Linked DNA regions of Homo sapiens: region 1 is linked to region 2. A link means that fine-mapping ties the variant in region 2 to the expression of a gene that starts in the linked region. Tissue or cell type: spinal cord. Region 2 holds a variant in brackets; the other region holds the start of a gene. All regions are shown on one strand. Distances are from middle to middle.

What was found. PIP is the estimated chance that this variant, and not a neighbour inherited with it, causes the effect. A credible set is the group of variants that fine-mapping cannot tell apart.
Region 1: it holds the start of LINC02821, and the variant in region 2 is the best candidate, but not a certain one, in a credible set for the expression of LINC02821 in spinal cord (GTEx, PIP 0.51).

What each region holds. Positions count from the first base shown.
Region 1 is chr12:70,177,794-70,182,203 of GRCh38, forward strand. It overlaps LINC02821 (long intergenic non-protein coding RNA 2821), which reads left to right and starts at 2,534. Exons shown (of 3, transcript XR_945070.3): 1 at 2,534-2,745; 2 at 3,098-3,157.
Region 2 is chr12:70,142,400-70,146,809 of GRCh38, forward strand. No RefSeq gene overlaps it. Among named protein-coding and RNA genes, the nearest start is that of LINC02821, 36 kb to the right of the region's middle. The variant T/C (reference allele first, on the strand shown) is at 1,996.

The DNA.
Region 1 (4,410 bases), 35 kb after region 2:
AATGTACTTCAAGAGGAAGCCAGCTGATTCCAGTTGGATGTACTGAGATGCTCTTCTTAAGAAGGAATGTTGGAACTTCACTAGAACAAGACACTAATGATCCTTAGGACCACATTTACAGAAAATTGTATTTATTTCTTCCAAACGTGATTTTAGATTTACATATATTTGATTTTGCCAAGAGGTTAAAAATTCTGTAAGAACCTAGTATGCTTTCCAGGCAATATACTTTTTTAAAAAAGGTTTTTAAAAACATTACTAACAGGATGAATATAGTAGGAGAATATTTTACATTTCTGTAGTCCAAGAGACTTGCTTCTGGCTAACAAGTACATTTCTGGGAAAGCTTGCTCAATCTGAATCAGAAAGCAGAGAAAAGAAGCAGTCAGATCAGCAGGAAGAACAAATGTTGCAAATGGAAGAAAACACAGACAGATGGCTCAATCTGTGTTAGATCACACTGAACCATTGTGAAGGCAAGTAAGGACATTAATTGTTCAGAGCATGCACATAGTGAAATGGGAGGAAATTATTCATTATTTGCAGATGGATTTCCTGATACTCTACAGAAAGACTACTAACATACCTGCATAATGCTGTCCCCAGAGGAAATGAAAAGATTTGACATTTTCTCCCAAAATCGATCTTAGTTTCACATTTACAAAGAAAGAGCCTTCATTGGACTATTTATCCTTGTGGCTATTTTTATGGCTTTTTCATTGGTTTAAAGCTGAAAAATATTAGAAAAATTTGGAGTGATTTGCTTACTAAAAAGCCATATTATAAGTCCGTATTATTTCAATTGGTGCCAGATAATACTTCAGTAATTGTCATCAAAAAATGCGAGAGCTTTTTGTCAATGACAACAGTTGTGAAGAAGACAATAGTTTCTCTCATTCATGCCACATTAAAAATTAACTTTTCTACTTTTAACTTCCTTGTCCCCAGGAAGATTTGACCTCCAGAGCCAAAATTACTATTTTTAGCTACATTTATCTCAGCTGGGTATCAATAGATACCCAGTATTATCTAACTAATTTACATTACAGTGTTTCTAACTAATATTCCTTCCAGGGTTACACTTTTAAAAGAATTCTTCTTAACCAGAATGAAACACTTATTGGTAGAATGTCCAGCAACTGGCAAATTTCTAAACATCTACTGTATCAAGGTGGCATGTCAAGTCATTTAAAAAAGGACATATTTTGAGGATAATTGGCTAGCCATTTGGAAGAAAAGTAAAATTAGATCTCTACTTCAGGCCATAGACAAATACAATAAAAGATTCATGATTAATTATCATAAAGTTAAAAATAAAAGTTAAAAATTCAAAAGAAAATATAATAGGAAATGTTTTATTATTCTTTATACTAAGCCTTTCTTATGAAACAAAACTAAATAAAATTAAGAAAAATATTGAAACTTTGATTACATAAAATTTTGTGATTTTTTAAATTTTAATTTATTTTAGAGACAGAGTCTTGCTCTGCTGCCTAGGCTTGAGTGCAGTGGCACAATCATGTCACTGCAACTTTTGTTTGTCTGTTATTTTATTTTAAGTTCCAGGATACATGTGCAGGATGTGCCGGTTTGTTACGTAGGTAAATGTGTGCCATTGTGGTTTTCTGTACCTATCAACCCACTGCCTAGGTATTAAGCCCAGCACGCATTAGCTATTTTTCCTGATGCTCTCCCTCCCCCTACCCCGCCCCTCCTGACAGGCCCCAATGAATCACTGCAACTTTGAACTCCTGGGCTTAAGTGATCCTCCTGCCTCGGTCTCTCAAAGTTCTGGCATTATAGGCATGAGCCACTGCACCTGGCCTCACATAAAATTTTAAATATCATCCAGTAAGAAAGACCATATACAAAATTAAAATTATGAATGAGAAATTGAAAAGATATTTGTAACATATATGATAGACAAGGAAAGCCAGTAAAGGCAGTGTTTAAGAGCATAGGCTCAGAAATGAGATTGCATAGGTTCAGATATTAACTACACCACATCCTTAGTCTTTTGACCTTAGGCAAGTTATTTAACGTCCTTGGGCCTCAAGTTTCCTCATCTATAAGAAGGAGGTAATAATAAATCTATTTTCTTGGGTTAGCTGAGAACTATTATAATTGCCCATGATATATCAAAGGTTAATTAAATCAATAAGATAAGCGGAACTGATCTACTAGATATTGAACATGAATAAAAACCTATCTATCCATTTCATCTTATTTTCAGCTACTCCTTGGCACAAATCTTACATATCAAATTGTCCTGGTCCACATTCTCTTTAAATTGGGTGTAGATTTCTGTGATGGTTAATTTTCGATGCCAGCTTGACTGAGTTAAGGGATACCCAGCTGGTAATAACTGGTAAAGCATTATTCCTAAGTATGTCTGTGCAGCTGTTTCTGGAAGAGATTGGCATTTGAATTAGTGGACTCAGTAAGGAAGATCCACCCTCCCCCATGGATAAGCAACATCCAATTGGCTGAGGGCCTGGATAGAACAAAAGGGCAAGAGAAAGCTGAATCTGCTCGCTCTTCTGGAGCTGAGACACTCATCTTCTCCTGCCCTGGCACATCAAAACTCCAGGTTCTCTGATCTTTGAACACTGGGACTTAATCCAGCATCCCCTTACTGCCTGAAGTTCTCAGGACTTTGGACTTGGACTGAACGATGCTACCAGCTTCCCTGGCTTTCCAGCTTGTAGATGGCGTATCATGGAATTTCTCAGTCTCCAAAGTAATGTGAGCCAATTCCTATAATAACTCTCTTCTCTATCTAATCTATTAATATTTACATTTCTTATTGTTTTTCATTTACCTGGAGAACCCTAATAAAACTTCCTGTTGCATACCTTTAATGTCATCATCATTATCTCAGTCCAAAATTCTCCTTGCAGTCACTGGAAGTAAAATATTAATATCACCCATATTTTAAATTCAAACTCAAATCCTGCTTTTAATATATTATTAGTCAGCCAAAATGTTGCATTCTCTCTCTGAATTTCTAAGGAGTCTATAATACTAGTTTCTACATATAATCAAATATTGTTTTGTTCTTTCGGTGTGGAATATGTACATGTTTTATCTCCTACAGAAATTTGTAAATTTTCACAAGCAAGAATCTTCTTCTACTTCTTTAACCTCACAATGCATAGTAAGTACTTATTGTGGAAATGTTAAAATTTTTTTCTGTTTTCCATAACATTGATCTGCTACAGGCCAATCAGTGAGAATGTATATAGAATTCCCATACCCGTAATCTGTTCACCACCACCACCAACTTTCGCCCGAAACCCTTACCCTACATACACACTTAGAAAAAGAAACAAACATTTCCCAAATGGCATATGGTTCCTTTTGTTACTTGCACTTAACTAATAAATATATGAGACATGATCTGTGCTATATTTTTAGCTGAAAGGGGGAATGGGTGGAAGAGTTAAGCAGGCTATTTCAGTGTTTAAGAGAGATGATGGTGGCTTGGGCAGGATGGTAGCAGAGGAGGTCAAGATGGGATCAGGCTGGGTGTGGTGGCTCTCACCTGTAATCCCAGCACTTTGGGAGGCCCAGGTGGTGGCTCATCTGAGGTTGGGAGTTTGAGACTAGCCTGACCAACATGGGGAAACCCTGTCTCTACTAAAAATACAAAAATTAGGTGTGCATTTCTGTAACGGGTGTGGTGGTGCATGTCTGTAATCCTAGGTACTTGGGAGGCTGAGGCAGGAGAATCACTTGAACCTGGGAGGCAGAGGTTGCAGTGAGCTGAGATCGCACCACTGCATTCCAGCCTGGGCAACAGAGTGAGACTCCATCTCAAAAAAAAAAAAGAAAAAAAAAAGAGATGGGATCAGACTCCAGATACATTTTGAAGGTAAAGGCAGCATATTTGCCTGCAGACTGGATATAGTGTGAGAAAGAAAGGTCAAGGGCAAGATCCAGAATGTCAACTGCATAGCTGACTTCAGAAAATAACCAGTTCAAATCAGAGCAAATGGATGAAGAGGGCATAGGTTTCCAGATGAAATGGGCAAAATATCTTTGTTTTGAATACCTGAAAATTATATTAGTAGGCGTATAACAGATTTAGTAGAGCATATTTAAAAATTAAGAGTAGATACATAGAAAATGAACCAATAAACAAACCAGGCAATTATTAATCTTAGGAAAAAAATATTAAATATATAATAAAAGGTATATAAGCACAGGTTTATTTAGCTTTGCAGGGAACAATATTTTTATAGTATTAATAACATAAACACAGAGTAATTGATTTAGCAAAATATTGTGATAGAACTCTACTGGAAGGATGAGAGGAGGGGGAAAACTACAAAAAACTAAATAAATCCTTATTTGCCATAACAGGAAGTCAACAGATAAAGTATAAAATTATCAAATCAAGAAATAGGA
Region 2 (4,410 bases):
AAAGGGTACTCAAACTAGTTCACTGGCAGTCTGAAAATAGAAAAGAACCCTAAGGGCAACGACAGACAGGTATCCCTTCTCTAGGGCTTCAGAATCCCACGAAGAGTAGCCTCGGCCAGGGACTGTCAATTCCCAAAAGTAAAGAACCATCGAGCGAAGCAGGGAGGAAAAAGCAGGGAAAAAAGAATGGAGAAATCCCAGTAAAGTCCACATAATGGGTCACCAAGATGCTGGATGATGTGTCAGAGCCCTGGCACTGGGAAGTGGTCGACTCACAGGTTGGTAAAAAGAATTTACCAACAACAGTATAGGTTTGAAAAAGCAAAGTTCATTACAAAGAAAGAACGCTCCAAAAGGGTGCAGCGGGGTGCCTCAGCAAGAGGACTAAACACACTGTGGTGGATTTTCCTTAGGGGTATTTATGACTTTAAGGAGGGAATTTAGGATTGTAAAATGAGTTTTGGCATGGCATTCCAGAGATGTATAGAAATTTTAGTTACTCATAAAAGTTGAAAGAGGCCTGGAACTAGATGCAAACAGGTGGTCTTTGTTCCTTTCTAAATTCCTCAGATAAGAAGTTTTTGTCTCCAGGACCTCTTCAGTGGTCACCAGGTGATTTTCACTCTCCTCAGTCCCCACACAAATCTCATCTTGAATCGTAATCCCCACTGTATCAAGGGAGGGACCTGGTGGGAGGTGACTGGACCATGGGGGTGGTTTCCCCCATGCTGTACTCGTGATAGTGAGGGAGTTTTCACGAGATCTGATGGTTTTAAAAGCGGCAGTTTCCCCTGCGCACTCTGTCTCTCCTGTTGCCTTGCGAAGAAAGCGTTTGCTTCCCCTCTACTTTCTGCCATGATTTTAAGTTTCCTGAGGCCTCCCCAGCCATGCAGAACTGTGAATCAATTAAGCCTCTTTTGTTTATAAATTACCTATTTTATCTATAAATTGTTTATAAATTATAAGTTTATAATTTATAAATTATAGTATCTTCATATAATTTATATATATAATATATAAAATATATATAATATATATAAATTATATTAAATTTATATAAAGCTAACATGTTTTTTGTGGATACACATAAATATATATTTATATATAAAATGTATATTTATATATTATTATATAACAGCATTTATATATATTATATATTATATATAATTTCTATAATTATATTTAATTATATAATTATATAAATTATAAATTATAGTATCTTAATAGCAGTGTGAAAACAGATTAATACAATAGCCATATGTAGAAGAATACATCTGGATACACATTTCTCAGCATATACAAAAATTAAAAGTTCTTGTCCTTGACTTGGAAAACTCTGGATTTAAATCTGACCTCTGTCACTTTACTATCTATATGATCTTGAGTAAGTTACTTAACCTCTATGAATCAGGATACCTATGTCATAGGGCTACTGTGAGAATTAAATAATGTAATATATGTAAGGGATTGAGTATAGTGAGCACTCAGTAACTACAAACAAAAATAGTAGTAAGAGGGGAAAGGTAAATAGAAGCTTGCTAAGAATGGAGGGAGGAAAGTTTGAATGCAAACGTACTAAGGCAAGAGCACATGGTATCTTCAGGGAACAACAAGAAAAACATAAGACCTGAGCAGAGATTTAATGGGGAAGAATAGTGGAGAGGAAGTTGGTAGGCTGATACAAAGGATATCATACTAAAGGTTTAGATTTTTTTTTTTTTTTTGAGATGAAGTCTTGGTGTGTCACCCAGGCCGGAGTGCAGTAGCATGATCTCAGCTCACTGCAACCTCTGCTGCCCGGTTCAAGCAATTCTCCTGTCTCAGCCTCCTGAGTAGCTGGGCCTATAGGTGCATGCCACCATGCCCAGCTAATTTTTGTATTTTTAGTAGAGGCAGGGTTTCACCATATTGGTCAGGCTGGTCTCGAACTCCTGACCTCAGGTATTCACCCGCCTCAGCCTTCCAAAGTGCTGGGATTACAGGTGTAAGCCACTG[T/C]GCCTGGCCAAGGTTTAGATTTTATTCTATAGTTTATGGGCAGTCTGAAAAATTATGAATGCAAAGGAATACTCTAATGGTAATATGGAAAATTTATTTTCTCAGGGATATATTAATAATGATATTTTCCTTTACATGGTTACTTTAAAAGATTTGCTGCTTCCCTAAGAGTGATTTTTATCATTCCTTGGAAGCTAACATATTTTCTGTGGATACATCTGTTTGTTAATAGAGGCAATGAAAAAATTGGACTTGAGATTTTTACATGAAACCTTAAAAAATATTTATTCCTTGTACAGAATTATATCTGTTTTCATGTGCAGCCAAGGTCATATGGTATGGATTCAGTGGCAATCGTGAGCCCTTATATTTATAGCACAAGTAATAGGATAACAAGGACAGAAGTAAGAAGTAATAGCCTAAATGGACAACCTATAAAGATTACATTTTTGGACACAGCTTTACCTTGGCCATATTTCTGTTCCATAATGGGTTAAATCCAAATTTACAAAACAACTATGGTATAACAGATTGGAGTGACTGGTGACACAGTCAGTCTAACTGCATGCTCTACAATCAGTCATGAAAATAATGAGTATGGACACATAGGCCATGCTTCAATTCTCTGGCTGCCAACTAACATAGCCATGGCATATGGGCAATTGTGGCATTCAAACGTATATAATTTAATTGTCTTGATTACAGGTAATAGTAAACAGAAAATAATAGTGCTAAATAACAATACCCTAAACTAATCAGGGCACATCTCTGCAAATCACTTCACTGCACTGCTGTACAGACTGTTCCCTATCTTAAAAATTATAAGACATCCCAAATTACCGTGCAGTATTCATCATCAAACTGCTATTTGATAATTGTTATTACATCAAAGACCAGAGACAAAGATCAAAGAATAAGAACTACAGTTGTCTCAGCCTACATATTGAAGCCCATCCCAATTCTCACTAACTTTCCGCGTTGCCTGTACACCACAGTGATAAATGTCTCAGGCATCTAGATATGGATTTTAACTCTGGAGGAAAGCAAAAGTTTTCTTGTGGACCCCATTTATTTTGTAATAAAGGTTGTGTTATTTGTAGGTCTTAGTAGTCCTAATTTCTACAAAGTTCTATAGGAAATAAAAGGATAAAAAGAGACTTTAAAGAGACCTTGATCCCAGCTCCTAGATCTTTCTGGCAATCATTCACTCTGGGTTCTGCCATCACAAAGGACCTTATCTAAGAGTCCAGCCAGTCTGATCAAATAGCTCTTCTTTAAATGTCTGATACATTTGCACATGCAATTCCTTTCTTACCACAATCCTCACTCTTCAGCACAGATATTTACTTGGCAAAGGCCCTGTTATTGATCAAGAGCCAGTTCAAGTGTCTCCTTCTCTATTTTCTAAGAGACAATTTAAAACCCTCATAGGAGACCTCTACTTTTGCACTTATCACACCATGTCATAATAATTTGCTTGAAATATTTTTCTCATTTATCAGGCTATAAACATTTATTTTTATAATCTCAACTCCCATTAAAATGTCTGCTGCAAGGTGAGTGCTTAATAAATATTTTTCTGTTTATTTATGCTATGTCTTCTTTCAAAAAGAATTGAGTATGGAATATATAGATGCATTTAGTGGAATGAGATTTTTTCTAAAAAAAGAAAGCAAAGAAAAAGTGTTTAACAGATTGACTGACTAAAGATCTAAAAAAAATAATTAATGTTCAGGAATTTAGGAGTGGTATGTTTTTCCCAATTTTAGAATCAATAGGGGAGAAAATAAGAATTAAAAAAAAAAAACCTTCCTTAAAACTTTAAGCCTGCACACTTTATGTGAAATATAAAAAGGTTATTTAAACTTTAAATCACTGGAAGAAATAAAGTAAATTCTTTTGATTATTGTAAATGTTTGTTCTGTGCTTAAGTCACCAGTCTCCATTTTTGCCATTCACATCTAAGCTTCAACATTTTAATTAAACGGCTAAGCAGTTGAATCATATGTCTAATAACATCAAAAACTATCTTCTACACCTATTAACAAACTCAATACAAAGGCAGCCCTGCTCAGAATAGGAAAGTAGGCAGTTTGTCGTGGTGTTTGCCTCTCTTCCATATTAGGGACTCTTCCAGGGCATAGGTTAAACACAAATAATTTTCTAAGAGACAACTTAAAACAAGAGAACAGCAATTAAAAGCAAATAACTAAGAAGGAAATGAAGAAAAAAAGATAACATAACTATATCAGAAAAACCAGTCTGAGAGAGGCTACCACAATTGAAAACAGAACTAAGCACGAAGCTTTCTGGCAAAAAAAGAAAATACATAGGCAGAGTGTGGCGAGTGAATCATATAAGATAATTAAAGAAAGTACAAGATCATCAAAATAAACACTTTCAGAGTTCTGAAAA